Linked DNA regions of Homo sapiens: region 2 is linked to region 1. Evidence: fine-mapped expression QTL. Tissue or cell type: testis. Region 1 holds a variant in brackets; the other region holds the start of a gene. All regions are shown on one strand. Distances are between the middles of the regions.

Evidence for each region. PIP is the estimated chance that this variant, and not a neighbour inherited with it, causes the effect.
Region 2: it holds the start of JUN-DT, and the variant in region 1 is fine-mapped to the expression of JUN-DT in testis (GTEx, PIP 0.95).

Annotation. Positions count from the first base shown.
Region 1 is chr1:58,811,689-58,819,950 of GRCh38, reverse strand. All of the region lies in intron 1 of JUN-DT (JUN divergent transcript), which reads right to left. It overlaps LOC101926907 (a long non-coding RNA gene), which reads right to left and starts at 5,511. Exons shown (of 2, transcript XR_246327.5): 1 at 5,439-5,511; 2 at 3,909-4,683. RefSeq lists silencers at 3,428-3,577, 4,390-4,589 and enhancers at 4,031-5,026, 5,027-6,023. The variant A/T (reference allele first, on the strand shown) is at 4,742.
Region 2 is chr1:58,781,416-58,789,415 of GRCh38, reverse strand. JUN-DT (JUN divergent transcript) reads right to left here and starts at 4,265. Exons shown (of 2, transcript NR_108106.1): 1 at 4,111-4,265. It overlaps JUN (Jun proto-oncogene, AP-1 transcription factor subunit), which reads left to right and starts at 5,369. Exons shown (of 1, transcript NM_002228.4): 1 at 5,369-8,000. The coding sequence starts at 6,346. The coding sequence ends at 7,341. RefSeq lists enhancers at 4,178-4,923, 5,150-5,409, 4,924-5,671, 7,080-7,259 and silencers at 6,930-7,009, 7,397-7,572.

The DNA of each region.
Region 1 (8,262 bases):
GAAAAGATACCACACTGGAGTCAGGCAGACCTGAGTTCAAGAGCTGACCATGTCACAAGCTAGTCAGTCAGTCCGCTCTGAGCTCAACTTCCTTGGAAGTCAATGACTAGGAGGAGGGGGGCAAAGGATCACCAGCTCTCCAGTGAGGTTGGTGGAGGCACGGAGCTGGAAACAAAAGTGCTGGAAAGACTTGTTTTGTTTCAAAACAAAATACTGAAAATGTCCCCTTGCTTTGATTTGTTTTGAATCATGATATTTTGCTTATTTTGAATTTGAAACTCATTAAAAGAGGATGTAAGGTTTTTGTGTTTATCTAGGGTGACTTGGATTATAAAAGAGGCAGAGAAACTCTGGGTGAGGCGATCTTAAAGTCCCCTCTGATCCTCACCTCCAGCTCTAAAATGACTGACATTTGGGCATACAGGGAAAAAGCAGAGAGGTGCAGCGAATCAGATACTGAACTTGAAGTCAGACCCAACTTCTTCCAACTCAGACTTTGCCACTCACTTTCTCGGCAAGTTAACAAGCGTCTTGGAGTGTCAGTTTCCTCTTCTATAATATGATCTTTTCCTCATAGCCTTATTTTGAGGTTTATTTGAAATAATGGATTTGAAAGCAACTGTCACATAGTAGGTGCTCAATAAATGTCAGCTGAGTATACTGTCTTTGTTCTCTCCATATCCCTGTCTCTAATCATAATAGTTTCCTTGTGAATACCTACCATCTGCTGAGTGTTGTCCACAGGCTATCTCTTTTACAAGCAGAAATTAATGATTTAATTCTTTGTTGTCAGTTGAGTTCATTGAATTGCCTCAAGGCGGTTCTGACCCTCAGAATAGAGACACAATGTTTGATGGGAATTTAGGGTATTCTGTCTGGAACTACACAGGTTTAAAATCTTTTGAAATTTAAAGTGGCTTTTTATTACTTTGGAAACCTATCCACTGCACGTTTTTATTTCTAACCATTATCCGTTTTCTCCCTTACTTTCCACATTTAACTCAAGGCTTCAAATACAAAAGCCAAGTTTGAAATAATCACAACATTTAAGCAATGAATGTAATGACAGCTTATATTTCCATGGCAGGAAGATGTACACTATATTTAATAGCTTTAGCCATTTACAGCAAAAATTACCACGGGGACTCCAAAGACAGAGGGTAGGAGGAGAATTCTGGGCCTTTGACTAAAGATGCCATAGTCATAAGCTGTTTTGGAAATGATTAAGTGATAAATACAGTAAATTTACCCTCAATTCTGGGAACCCCACAGTGCAGACATAATTCTACAGAAACAGAATTACTCTGCAAAGGCAGAAGTAATTATTATTATTGTTAAAAGGTCTAAACCTTAAGCCTGTGCTGTTTTATTCTCTTTAGCTGGAAGATCACTAAGTACACAGACGAGGGAACTTAGGTATGTGGAGCATCTATTAGACACCAACTTCTCTATCACTTAAAACCTAACCTCCCTCCACATTCCATGTAAGCACTTGGAACTGGACCCCCAAAAATTACAGTGAGGGAAACCAACAATCTTGAATATCTACGGTGTGCAAGCCACCTTATTATATAAAATATAGCATATGCATGCAATGCTTAATCATATATAAGGAATGCCAATAAGCTCAGAAAGGAACCCCTTGCCTTTGTTGAGGAGGCAGCTGTGTGTGGTATCATTCCTGGCTGCATGCCCATTGCCTAGCATTGTGTCTGATACATCCTGCAGGAATTAAGAATATGGAATAAGGAGCCAAACTTTGTAGATTCAAGTCCTACTTAGTAGCTGTGTGACTTTGGGTAAGTCATTTAACTTCTTCGTTCCTCAATTTCCTATTTGTGAAATGGGATGCTCTTAATACCTCTCTCATACTGTAATTGTAGAATTAAATGAGTTAATAAGGGTCAAATGCTTAAGACAGTGCTGGCAAACAGTAAGAGTTGCAAACATCATCACTTGTGGAATTGCTGGATAATGGGGACCTCACCATCACCCTGTGACATAAAGTGTAATAAACTCCTTTTTCCAGGTGGGGAAACTGAAGAAAGTACACCTGCCTGGTCATCCAGTTCTTAAGTGGCCTAAACAAGATTCCTACCTAGGCCTAACTAACACTAATAACAAAACATAGCATTTAATTAGTTTTTTTTCAAATGTTCTAGGCCTTTACAGATAGGCACATATTTACTTCTCACAACAATTATATGAGGTAAGTGTCAGTAACTCACATTTTACAGATGCAGAAACTGAGACTGAGGTTAAGTAATTTTCCCAAGGCCATATAGTCAGCAAATGTCAAGTGTGGGTTGTTTTGTTTGTTTTATATATTTTTTTCAACTTTTATTTTACTTTATTTTGAAACGGTGTCCAGCCCAGTGCCTAGGCTGGAGTGCAGTAGCAGGAACATGGCTCACTGCAGCCTCGACTTCCTAGGCTCAAGCAATCCTTCTGTCTCAGCCTCCTATGTAGCTGGGACCACAGGTGCACGCCACCATGCCTAGCTAATTTTTAAATTTTTTGTAGAGATGAGGTCTCACTTTGTTGCCCAGGTGGGTCTCAAACTCCTGGCCTCAAGCCATCCTCCCCCTTCTGTCTCCCAAAGTGCTGGAATTAAAAGAGTGAGCCACTGCACCCGTCCCAACTTTTATTTTATAATTGGGGGTACATGTGCAGGTTTGTTACAAAGGTATATTGCCTAATGCTGAGGTTTTTAGTATAATTGAGCTTGTCACTCAGATAGTGAGCATAGCACCCAAGAGGTAATTTTCCAGCCCTTGCTCTGCTCCCTCTCCCACTAACTCTAGTAGTCCTCAGTGTCTATCATGTCCACCTTTATGTCCATGTGTACCCATTGTTTAGCTCCTGCTTATAAGTGAGGATATGTGGTATTTGATTTTCTTTTCCTGATTAGTTCACTTAGGATAATGGCCTCCACCTGCATCCATGTTGCTGCAAAGGACACGATTTCATTCTTTTTATGACTGCATAGTGTTCCGTGGTGTGTATGAGCCATATTTTCTTTATCCAATCCACCATTGACAAGCACCTGGGTTGATTCCAAGTTTTTGCTATTGTGAATAGCACTTCGATGAACATAGGGATTCATGTGTCTTTCTGGAAGAACCACTTATTTTTCTTTCGGTACAGACCCAGTAATGGGATTGCTGAGTGGAAGGTAGTTCAACTCTGGGTACTTTTAGAAAACCCAGGCCAGAGAACCTGACTGTCCCCTACATGGAAGAAAAGGGCCAGGTCTCTGGAACCTGAAATTCAGCTAGCTGAGCTGCAGATCTGGCTGGCGTTCCTATGGCCAGAACTTGGACCTGAGGACTGTACGAGGACTGAGGATTGAGGCTGGGTCTCTGGGGCCGCCTGGGGCTCTGGGGCCGCCGGTGGGTTAGCGGGCCTGGAACACGGGTGTGGCCCGCAGCGCCAGTTTACAACGGCCGGCAGGACCGCAGGGAGGAGCAAAAGCAGGAAGTGCCGCGCGCGCTCGCACCGAGGGAACCCCGGCGGCGCCCCGCCTTTGCCGGCGTCTGGGCTCTGTGCCCGCCGCCCTCCCCGGCCGTTCGCCCGCGAGTCCCTTTCGCTTTTAACCCCAGCCGCGCTGATTGCCTGCGATTACTCAGAATCGCCCCCACTTGGCTGGCTGAGCGACAAAAATCAGCAGTAGCTGTCCGAGGAAAGCTCTTCGCAAACCGGCGCCCCCACCCAGCGGAAACACCCCAAGCCGGATCCCAGAAATCTCAGTCTTCTCCCAACCCCGGCTCTGCCTCTCTCTCTCAATGGGACTCGTCCGGGTCTCAGTTTGCCCATCTGTGCAGACGGTGTGAAGAATTTCTGCACAATCGAGAAAAAAAGGTGTGGAAACAGCCGAAAATAATTTTGATCCGAAATAACTTTGAGAGTTTTATAGTCTAATCGATTATTGTTTTAATAAGAATCTGTATTTTTTCATGCAAAAAGGAGTTTAACTGTCACCCAGGAAAATTCGCCTGTGGTTGGAGTTGCCCTGTGCGACACGCCCAGGGAAGCGCTGGAATGTCCCTTTCCGCTCCCATCTGTCTGTTAACCTGTAACCCGTTGTGCATGTATTTGATTCTTCCCGGTTAGAAGTTTTACAATCTCGGTGACGATAGGTGGGTTGGGGAGAGACTGGGTTTTGCAGCCAGATATTGGGTTACAATATCTTGCTGTACCATTTTTTTGCCTGTGGGACCTTGGTCAAGCCATTTCAACGTGCCGAGCCTCAGCCTCCCTTCTATAAAATGGGAAGAAGGAATCTCCTGCAGGGTTTCTGGGAAGATTCGGGCTGCTGTCTCTCTAGGGCCTACCATGTTCTGAGTGATCAGTGGAGAAGGGTGCTCATGGGTGGGGACTCCGACGGTCTGAGCCTGGATTTCTTCCACCTGCTCCTCCTTTTGGCCCCGTGGCTCCCCGGCCCTGCGAGAGGGCTGGGGCGTGGCGGGCTCCGAGCCTCCCGAGGCCTGCGTAGCGGCCGTAGCACCAGTTCCCGCCTCCCCCGCGGCCCGGCGCTGCGGGCGGGACCTGCGGCGACCTGTGGGCGGAAGTCTGTGGCTTTATTTACACAGAGGGCAGCCCGTGGAGGCTAGCCTTGTAAGGACGAATCGCTGGCGGGCCTGTGGGGGAGGCCAGGAAAGGCGGCCTTCGCCTGATAGGAATCTGTGAATAAATAAATACGTGAATGGAAGAATGCATTGAAATTCCCTCCTAGGATCAC[A/T]GAAACGCATTCCAAAGGCAGCCTCAGAATCCGCCCACTCGCCCCCATCCCATTTGAGGATCAAATGATTCAAATGAGTTATTGCCAGGCCAGGCCTCCTGCCTCCCAGACCCCGCCGTCCTGGGGCTGCCTTTGGGGCGCGACTTCAGGGCTAGGAGTGAGATCTTGGGGCTAAACAAAGGGAAAGGGAACCCCGCTTTGCTCAGCACCTGCCATGTGCTAGGCACCTTTCCTATGTCACTTCATTGACTTTCATTCCCACGACGCTTTGGGGTAGGCACCGTCTTCCCACTTTCGTCTGGGAAAACTCTGGGTCAGATAGAAGTCACTCGCCCAAGAACAAAAGCGTGTGGGTGGAACAGCTTGGATTCAAATACAAGTCTGTCCTGAGCGCCTTTCACGCCACCGCGGGGCCCGGAGGAGGCGCAGGGGCCAGGAAGAGAAAGCGCGCTGGCGAGGACAGGGGAGCGGCGCGACTGCCCAGCTGCGTTTCCGGGTACCACCCCTTCCCGCGGTGTCCTTCGCTTGCCCGCTGGATCGCCAAAGCCTCTTCCAGCTCCACCCGTCAACTCATTCGCCGCCGCCCGGCCCGCTCACTCTCCTGATTTAGCAGCCAGAAGCCCCACGCCCGGTGACCACCGACCCAGAGCCCCTGGTCATGTCATAGCCAAAACCAATGTAGTCCTGGAGGACTTACAGGTGCACCCAGGGTGCGTATTTCTCCTGCCTCCACCTGAGTCCCGGCTCCGCATCCGGTCCTGGAGCAAAGGAAACTAACTGGTCTAGGCGCCTCTTTTCCCGGCAGGGCCCCACCCACGCCCACCCTGCCGAGGCCCCAAACAGGTTTCTTCACTTTCCCTGGCCCAGCTCCTGACCCGGGGCAGGAAGGAAGCCGGTTGCTCAATGTGCTGGAGGCTAGTTTTGGTTCTCAGGCCACCTATTGACCAGCCAATCAGTCAGGTGGGCCCAGCTCAAGCCACCCTGCAGGTACAGTGACTTGAGCACCTAGGACCACTCAACAAATCCTTAGGGGTCCTCACGCAACACAACACGTGGGCTCTATGTGCAGCCTGTGAGCGCCAGATCCCTTGGGAAAAATGAGCTGGATGAAGCCGGCCACCCCAGCCCTCTGGGTCCATCCTGCAGGCTTGCCCCAGGGCAACACACTGACCTCTTGCTGGGCCTCCATCACACATGCATCCACTGACCTTGGAAGACTTTCCAGAAGCCCCAGCTCGTTTGCTTTTAGATCTCTTGGCCAAGAGGACAGCATGGGCAGAAAATTCAGACAATGACAGGAGGAATTTATTCACAAACATTTACTGAGTGCCAGCCATTGTACTAGACCCTGGGGATACCAACGCAAACCAAACAGTCCCTTCCCCCACGTGTCCCCATCTAATGAGGAGTCAGGTAACAGGTCATTTTAAGAGGATGCCATGAGCCATTTCCCAGAGTGCATCTGGAAGAAGACCCTGAGTTGGTGGGGTGAGGAGTAGGGAGGCATCTGGAAAGACTCTCAGACTTCAAACACTGCCCCTTTCCTTCCTTCTTCCATCTTTCTACACTCATTTCTGGAGTACTGCATCAAGCTAAGAGCTCAGGGAGCAGGAGGTGGTTTTCAAAGGAGAACAAGTCATGGTGTCACAGTGTTGTGGTTAAAATGCCAGCGCTCCAGCTACAGCCACTTATTCTGTGCCTGTGGGTGATTCACATAATCTCTCTGACCCTTGGTTTTGCTATCTGTATAATAGGGATAATTGATAATATCTACTTCACAGAACAAGGCCCAGCCCAGGGTAGCCATTAATTAATGTAGTCTTATATTATTTTGTGGTGGTTCACACTTTTCTGTTTCTTACAACAACCCCATGTGGCTGACAGCACAGGTAACCTTATACCCATTTTACAGATGAGGAAGCCGACCCAGACAAATTAACGCAATGGTCCATGTCTGGTACATTTCAAGATCAGGATCCTGGGGAGGGGTGGCCTCCTGAAATAGGGGGATATTATGACCTTCACCTGCCCTCCCTGAAACCCCAGATGACTGGTTGAGGCTGAACTGTCTGGGGAACTTCCTCTGACCTAAATCCTGTCGGCTATACCCAAACACCAGCCAGAAGATACAAACAGCCACACCCTCACCGTTTTTGCCCCAACTTGTGCTTCATGCCAGGGGATTTCTCTTTCAGGAACTACATTTAAAAAGGGGGGAATTATATGATAATTGGACACCTACTATGTGGCAGACATTACACAAGGCATGCTTGTGTGGGTTATTTTATCTCATGTGAGCCATGTTATGTGGACAGGGAAAAGAGGAGGATGATGGAGGAGGAGGAAAGAATCGACTTGTTCCAACTGCTCTCCATAATAAAACTTCATTCAAGTGCATATAACCCTGAGTGTTCTTTCTAACATGCAAATGTGATCATACTCCAACTCTCTTGCTTAAAATTTCCCAGTAGCCTCCCTCTGTGTTCACAACAAAGTTGACACTGCACAGACATGCTCAGCTAGCCACATCGTCATATCCACTGTGCGCTCTGACCTCCTGGCCTTTGCACATGCAGTTTCTTCTTCCTGGAATGCCCTTTCCAGCTCCCCACTTCCTTTCTTACTTTTACTTGGTTAAATCCTATTCATCCTTCAGCCCTCAGCTTTAAATGTTGCTTCCTCTAGGAAGCCTCCTTGTCCACTCAGACAGGAATAGGCCCCTGCTACATACCATGCTCTATACATACTATTCTGTGTTGTATCTGTTTAATAGTGTCCCACTAGGTAATGAGCTCCTTAGGGTCAGGAACTATGTCCTCTTCCTGTGTCCTCAGCACTAAGCATATTATGACTCCTAATAGGCATTCAATAAATGTTTAATAGATGGATGAGAAGAGGTTGAGCATAAAAATTATCCCCATTTAACAGAAGAGAAAACCAATCCCAAAGAGGGGGGAAAATGCCTGTCTAAGCTGGTTAATGAATGAGTTACGCCTCTGTAAATCCGCTCAGCATTGTTTCACTATTTCATTTATAATGAAGATCATGCAAACTTGTAAGTTCTGATCTAAATTGTTCTTATCACTATCTTTCAACATTGCACAGAAATAGGACCTGGGTCCTAATAATGTAATAATTATAAATACTGATTATCAGGTCTATAGTTAGTCCTGGGTCCTGATTTTAGGTGTCCAAGACACATTATACCTCATGACATCTTTCAGATGCCACCACTGTGATGTCTCTTCAACAGATGAGAAAGCTGATTCAGAGAGATTAAGTGATTTACCCAAGGATCCACAGCCTTCAAACCCAAGTACTCTCCAACTCCTAAGCCCAGGTTCTTTCCACCTCCCCATCCAGCCTCCTGACATGGCTTGGAGCCAACTCTTTTGTGACCTCACATCCCATCTAGGCCTCAGTTACCCCTCTGACAGGATACAGATGAGACCCCACAATCTCTATGGGTCCTCTGGGCTTAGCCCAAATGTCATACAAACACTGGCATTTTTCCCTGGCCA
Region 2 (8,000 bases), 30 kb after region 1:
GCTTTAAGGGCTATGCTTTTTTCTGTCTGCCAATAACAGTAATGTTTTAGAAAGAGCGTGCTTCATTAACCAAGGTCTTTGAGCAAAGATCATGTGTGTAAATCAGAGACACAGCCAACTTATGGTGGATGTATTAGTCTGTTCTCACACTGCTAATAAAGACATACCTGAGATTGGGAAATTTATAAAGGAAAGAGGTTTAATGGACTCACAGTTCCACATGGCTTGGGAGGCCTCAAAATCATGGCAGAAGGCAAAGGAGAAGCAAAAGCACATCTTACATGGTGGCAAGCAAGAAAGCTTGTGCAGGGCAACTCCCATTTATAAAACCATAATATCTTATGAGACTAATTCATTACCATGAGAACAGTATGGGGGAAACTGACCCCATGATTCAATTATCTCCACCTGACCCCACCTTTGACATGTGAGGATTATTACAATTCAAGGTGAGATTTGAGTGGGGACACAACCAAACCATATGAGTGGACATGCAATATGAGTGAGAAACAATTCTGTGATTGTAACCCAGTAAGATTTTTGGATGGCTAACACAGCATAACCTAGAGTATATGGAGGTGTGCATTTCCAGCTCTTTGACTTCCGGGTACCTAGTAGGATTGCACTTTCCTGCACCCTTTAAGTAAGGCATGGCCATGTGACTAATTTTAGCCAATAATATGTAAATACAATAAAAAGTGTCATTCCTAGGAGGGAGCTTTTAAAGCCAATGTGAGTTCACCATGCTTTCTTTCCCCTGCCAAACTGATGCGATGATTGTTGAAGCATGTATCAAGATGAAACCTTCTTCAGACTAGGTTTCTAAATGAGCACATTAAGCAGAGCCCCGTGAAGTTGAACATGTAGTATGAGCAAAATATAAAATTTATTTTTAAGCCACTGAAATTTTAGGATTGTTTGTTATGGCAGCATAACCTAAACCATCCTGACTCATATAAAAATTGGCTCCTAGATATGGGTTAGTGTAATAACAACAATAAGCATAACAACAATAAAACTAAACAATCATTTAGAGGGCGATAACTAAGAACACTGCTATCAGAAGCTGAAGGGATGGTGATCTGTTTGGTAAACATATCACCTGTGATAATGTAGAAGGCAGATCATGAACCTGATGAACTAAAGAAAAGGATTGTAAAACAGAGAGTGAGTAGTGTGTGTTGGTGGCTGTTGGATGCATTCTGAAAGTTACTACAAGCTATTCAAAGATGAACTCAGAAAAATTTGGCCTGTTTGCAATCAGGAATGAAATGGAATAGAGAAAACCTATAAATCCAGGGATTTACATCGTTAGAAGAGGCAATTGTTTCCCAGTCCCGACTGGTAAAATATAAAATCAAGAAATACTTTTAGCAAGAAAGGACCTGGAAGAAACTAAGCTTTGAAGTAAGGATCAAGTCACAAAGTATGAACCTACTATTAAAACCTCAGGATAGGAGGCCGAGGAGGACGGATCACCTGAGGTCGGGAGTTCGAGACAAGCCTGACCAATATGGAGAAATCCTGTCGCTCCTAAAAATACAAAATTAGCCGGGCGTGGTGGCGCATGCCTGTAATCCCAGCTACTCAGGAGGCTGAGGCAGGAGAATCGCTTGAACCCGGGAGGTAGAGGTTGCAGTGAGCCGAGACTGTGCCATTGCACTCCAACCAGGGCAACAAGAGTGAAACTCCGTCTCAGAAAAAAAAAAAAAAGGATCAATTAAGATCTTACCCAGTATATACTTTCAACTGGACAAAATGGCTCTGGGAAAAGGAAGAAAGGTCTAACTCTCCCATCAAAACCCAATAAGCCCAAAGTGCTCAAAATCAAGTGAAGAGCAAGAGAGTGAGACGGCAAAAGAGAGACAGAGGAGTCAACAGGCAGGAGAGCAGGAAAGCAAAGAGATATGGCAAACCAAAGAAGTATGTCTGGAAAAGAACTTTGTGGCTATTGTCACATGGAACACCTCATATCAGATAGATAAGAAGCCTACCTACACATATTCAAGACTTAATGTCACTCTGCATCTCCCCAACTTTTAAAAGCTTATTTAAAAGCATATTTTCCAATGCCTGCTTTAGCTGTGGAAAAGGAAGACTCTCCGAGGGCAAATCCAGGAGTCATGGAAAACAATGGGCAGGGCAGCTTGGTGCTGTGACTGGATGGGTCTTTAAGGTTGTTTCCCTTGAATAAAGAATGAGGGAATTCCACCAGGGGAAGGAGAGTAGACCAAACATTTGGTGAACAGAAAGGGAGACAGAGTCTTTAGTGTTATTCCCCAAATATTCCTGGAGAGCCCTTTGAGACACCTGGTAGGATTATAGTGATCTAAAGAGGCATGGCCATGTGACTGCTTTGGCCAATGATGTATGGGCAGAAGTGATGTGTGCCATAAGTGGATGCTCTGACAGCCATGATGTTCCGAGTTCCTTCCCCACAGTCAGGATAGCTGTGAAAAGGGGTATCAACACGAGGCCTCCTTCAGCCTGAGCCCTTTAGTGACTACAATGAGCAGAGCTACCCTGCCAACCTACAACGGTCATGTAGCAGAAATGACCAACTTTCACTGGAATAAGCCACTGATATGTTAGGGTTGTTTGTTAGGGCAGCATAACACTGCCTTTCCTGACAGAACTGGGAGTGAGAGATAAGGCTGGAGAGAGAAGGAGTTGGATTGTGAAAAGCCCCTTCTCCAAGGCATAGGAATCGGAACTCTCCTGATTGTAAGGAAAAGCCAATGAAGGCTTCCAAGCAGGGGCGTTAACATGAACAGATTTGTTATTTTTTTGGATGAAATATGCTATTTCTCAACATAAGGAGAAGATCAGCCTACTAAACCACATGAGGCAGAGAGGAACACACAGAACCTTAGGCAAAAGATATATATTTATGCAAAGTCCTAAGTCTTGAAATTTCTAAATACAAGAGCTCTGAACGGAGTTACAGTCAGAGGATCAGGCAAGAAAATTTCTTCTATGCCACAAGCGCTATTTCCTCTGCAGATAACTAATACTCCACAAGAAAGTTTGCCAGAGTAGAGAAAATACAAAGGAATGTAACACAGACCTGAGGTCAATTTCCAGCTGCCTGTGTGACCTCAACAAAGATACTTAACCTCTCTGGGCCTATTTCCTCACATGTTAAATCTGGATAATAATATATGTCTCTCAAGACAGTTGTGGGGAGAAAACAGCGTATTTAAATTGCTTAGGAGAATGCCTGGCAGATAATAAGTGTTTAATACATGAAACTGATTTTTATTACTGTTATTAAAAAATATTTAGAACACCAACTCCCTGAATACAACAGAAAATGATTCAGGGCAACAGACAGAGGAGAATGTTCTCTCCTTGAGGAAGCAACTGGATCTTGTCATCACTGTATACCTACCTACCCCACCCCCTCCCCAGCTCAGTGCCTGGCTCACAGTAGGCTTTCAGTTACCCTCTGCAGATCAGTGAAAGCTAGGTGAGTGCCCGGAGTGAAGAAAAGTTGGCAGGTTTCCCACTGATACCAGCTGCTGTTGGTTTCTGAACACTCAAAGCCGCAAATACCTTAGGGCTGGGGGCAATGAACCCAAGGCTGAATTCCAAGTTCAGAAGCAGCGAAGTCTGAATTTAGAACCTAGGAACTTAAACTGCTGCAGGTCCAACTTCAAGCCCCAGTTTTAGACAGAGGCTTGGGAAAGATCTGACTTCTAACCCGGTTCCCCCTCCCCTCCTCCCCTCGATGCTTCTCACAGGAAAGTACACCTGGTCCTGCCAAATCGCACTCTTATATCCTGGCATCCTATCCAGGCTCTGCGAGGATGGAAACTGCGAGGCAGGGGAGGGAAGCGGGCTGTTTGGCCACCACCTCCCTAGTGCTGCAGGCGACCCTGTCACACTAACTCCTGGCAGCCCAGTGAGGTGGACGGCACCGGCCCCACCTGCAGATGAGGGAAATGAAGCTCGGAGGAGTTCCGTGATTTGCTTGCTTCACACTGTGGTAGCCTGGCCACGAAAGAACCAGGATTCCCGACTTCGGGATTCTTTCCACCACACACTTTCGTCCCTAAGGGGTGGGGGGCGGGGGGAGAATAAAATAACCGCGGAAAAGGAACCACTTACATGTGTCTAGCGCTTCCTAGAGGCTACCCAGGATATGCGCCCACCACCCGGCCGGGAGTGCAGAGATTTGAAGTCCAGGTTCTACCCCGGGCTCCGAGTACTACTGCGTGACTTTATGCGAGTGTCCGCCGCCTTCTGGGCTTGTTTTCCCGGAAGCAACTCGGCGCGGATGGAGTGTGTGTGTGCGCGCGCGCGCGCGTTATGTTGTGCGTGTTGTGTTAAGCGTGTGCGTGTTGTCCGGGGGCGGGAGGGGGAGTAGACTAACACCGGGGTTCCCCGAGTTTCGGATCGCCTACACGCTTGTTCCCATCTGGACCCTGTTACCCACCAATTGCGCCCACTATAAAAACTGCCCCTCCGAGGCAAAGCTGTGAACCCCCGCGCCCTTTCCCCCACGGTCCCGGAGGATGAAGTGGGGTGCAACGGAGACTCAGCTGAGCGTCCAGTTTCGGGCAATACAAATCTCTCGGCTTCTACGAGCAGCCAGACGACCCCGCGGACCGTCGCTCCTGAACTTGACCGAGATGCAAACTTCGGAGTGTTCTCAACGTGGGGGGCCGACTCTCGGGAGACCGCCCCTAAACTTAAGTCCCCTTAGGCTCGCCCCCACCTGGGACTTCACAGAGCCACCTTAAGGGCGGTATTCCCGCCCCCCCGGAAGTGCGGGGGGGTGGCAGCGTACTTGGATTCTCAGCCTCCAGCCCCGCGCGGTGGCGGCCGCCGGTGGATGACTTCGGGCCCCACAAGTGGGGAAACAACAACCACCCCTCGCCCGCACCCCTGGCCCAAAACAACTGGCCAGGTTCCCTGGCCTCCCGGGTCCCTGCATCCCCCGCATCCCCGTCCGCAGCCGTGAACTTGAGCCCCCCTCCATCAGAGGTTGCGAGCGTCCGCCCGCTCGCGGCAGCCACCGTCACTAGACAGTCAAACCCCAAGACGTCAGCCCACAATGCACCGGGCGGGCCGGGAAAAACGGCCCGGGGAGGGGACCGGGGAAGAGAGGGCCGAGAGGCGTGCGGCAGGGGGGAGGGTAGGAGAAAGAAGGGCCCGACTGTAGGAGGGCAGCGGAGCATTACCTCATCCCGTGAGCCTCCGCGGGCCCAGAGAAGAATCTTCTAGGGTGGAGTCTCCATGGTGACGGGCGGGCCCGCCCCCCTGAGAGCGACGCGAGCCAATGGGAAGGCCTTGGGGTGACATCATGGGCTATTTTTAGGGGTTGACTGGTAGCAGATAAGTGTTGAGCTCGGGCTGGATAAGGGCTCAGAGTTGCACTGAGTGTGGCTGAAGCAGCGAGGCGGGAGTGGAGGTGCGCGGAGTCAGGCAGACAGACAGACACAGCCAGCCAGCCAGGTCGGCAGTATAGTCCGAACTGCAAATCTTATTTTCTTTTCACCTTCTCTCTAACTGCCCAGAGCTAGCGCCTGTGGCTCCCGGGCTGGTGTTTCGGGAGTGTCCAGAGAGCCTGGTCTCCAGCCGCCCCCGGGAGGAGAGCCCTGCTGCCCAGGCGCTGTTGACAGCGGCGGAAAGCAGCGGTACCCACGCGCCCGCCGGGGGAAGTCGGCGAGCGGCTGCAGCAGCAAAGAACTTTCCCGGCTGGGAGGACCGGAGACAAGTGGCAGAGTCCCGGAGCCAACTTTTGCAAGCCTTTCCTGCGTCTTAGGCTTCTCCACGGCGGTAAAGACCAGAAGGCGGCGGAGAGCCACGCAAGAGAAGAAGGACGTGCGCTCAGCTTCGCTCGCACCGGTTGTTGAACTTGGGCGAGCGCGAGCCGCGGCTGCCGGGCGCCCCCTCCCCCTAGCAGCGGAGGAGGGGACAAGTCGTCGGAGTCCGGGCGGCCAAGACCCGCCGCCGGCCGGCCACTGCAGGGTCCGCACTGATCCGCTCCGCGGGGAGAGCCGCTGCTCTGGGAAGTGAGTTCGCCTGCGGACTCCGAGGAACCGCTGCGCACGAAGAGCGCTCAGTGAGTGACCGCGACTTTTCAAAGCCGGGTAGCGCGCGCGAGTCGACAAGTAAGAGTGCGGGAGGCATCTTAATTAACCCTGCGCTCCCTGGAGCGAGCTGGTGAGGAGGGCGCAGCGGGGACGACAGCCAGCGGGTGCGTGCGCTCTTAGAGAAACTTTCCCTGTCAAAGGCTCCGGGGGGCGCGGGTGTCCCCCGCTTGCCACAGCCCTGTTGCGGCCCCGAAACTTGTGCGCGCAGCCCAAACTAACCTCACGTGAAGTGACGGACTGTTCTATGACTGCAAAGATGGAAACGACCTTCTATGACGATGCCCTCAACGCCTCGTTCCTCCCGTCCGAGAGCGGACCTTATGGCTACAGTAACCCCAAGATCCTGAAACAGAGCATGACCCTGAACCTGGCCGACCCAGTGGGGAGCCTGAAGCCGCACCTCCGCGCCAAGAACTCGGACCTCCTCACCTCGCCCGACGTGGGGCTGCTCAAGCTGGCGTCGCCCGAGCTGGAGCGCCTGATAATCCAGTCCAGCAACGGGCACATCACCACCACGCCGACCCCCACCCAGTTCCTGTGCCCCAAGAACGTGACAGATGAGCAGGAGGGCTTCGCCGAGGGCTTCGTGCGCGCCCTGGCCGAACTGCACAGCCAGAACACGCTGCCCAGCGTCACGTCGGCGGCGCAGCCGGTCAACGGGGCAGGCATGGTGGCTCCCGCGGTAGCCTCGGTGGCAGGGGGCAGCGGCAGCGGCGGCTTCAGCGCCAGCCTGCACAGCGAGCCGCCGGTCTACGCAAACCTCAGCAACTTCAACCCAGGCGCGCTGAGCAGCGGCGGCGGGGCGCCCTCCTACGGCGCGGCCGGCCTGGCCTTTCCCGCGCAACCCCAGCAGCAGCAGCAGCCGCCGCACCACCTGCCCCAGCAGATGCCCGTGCAGCACCCGCGGCTGCAGGCCCTGAAGGAGGAGCCTCAGACAGTGCCCGAGATGCCCGGCGAGACACCGCCCCTGTCCCCCATCGACATGGAGTCCCAGGAGCGGATCAAGGCGGAGAGGAAGCGCATGAGGAACCGCATCGCTGCCTCCAAGTGCCGAAAAAGGAAGCTGGAGAGAATCGCCCGGCTGGAGGAAAAAGTGAAAACCTTGAAAGCTCAGAACTCGGAGCTGGCGTCCACGGCCAACATGCTCAGGGAACAGGTGGCACAGCTTAAACAGAAAGTCATGAACCACGTTAACAGTGGGTGCCAACTCATGCTAACGCAGCAGTTGCAAACATTTTGAAGAGAGACCGTCGGGGGCTGAGGGGCAACGAAGAAAAAAAATAACACAGAGAGACAGACTTGAGAACTTGACAAGTTGCGACGGAGAGAAAAAAGAAGTGTCCGAGAACTAAAGCCAAGGGTATCCAAGTTGGACTGGGTTGCGTCCTGACGGCGCCCCCAGTGTGCACGAGTGGGAAGGACTTGGCGCGCCCTCCCTTGGCGTGGAGCCAGGGAGCGGCCGCCTGCGGGCTGCCCCGCTTTGCGGACGGGCTGTCCCCGCGCGAACGGAACGTTGGACTTTTCGTTAACATTGACCAAGAACTGCATGGACCTAACATTCGATCTCATTCAGTATTAAAGGGGGGAGGGGGAGGGGGTTACAAACTGCAATAGAGACTGTAGATTGCTTCTGTAGTACTCCTTAAGAACACAAAGCGGGGGGAGGGTTGGGGAGGGGCGGCAGGAGGGAGGTTTGTGAGAGCGAGGCTGAGCCTACAGATGAACTCTTTCTGGCCTGCCTTCGTTAACTGTGTATGTACATATATATATTTTTTAATTTGATGAAAGCTGATTACTGTCAATAAACAGCTTCATGCCTTTGTAAGTTATTTCTTGTTTGTTTGTTTGGGTATCCTGCCCAGTGTTGTTTGTAAATAAGAGATTTGGAGCACTCTGAGT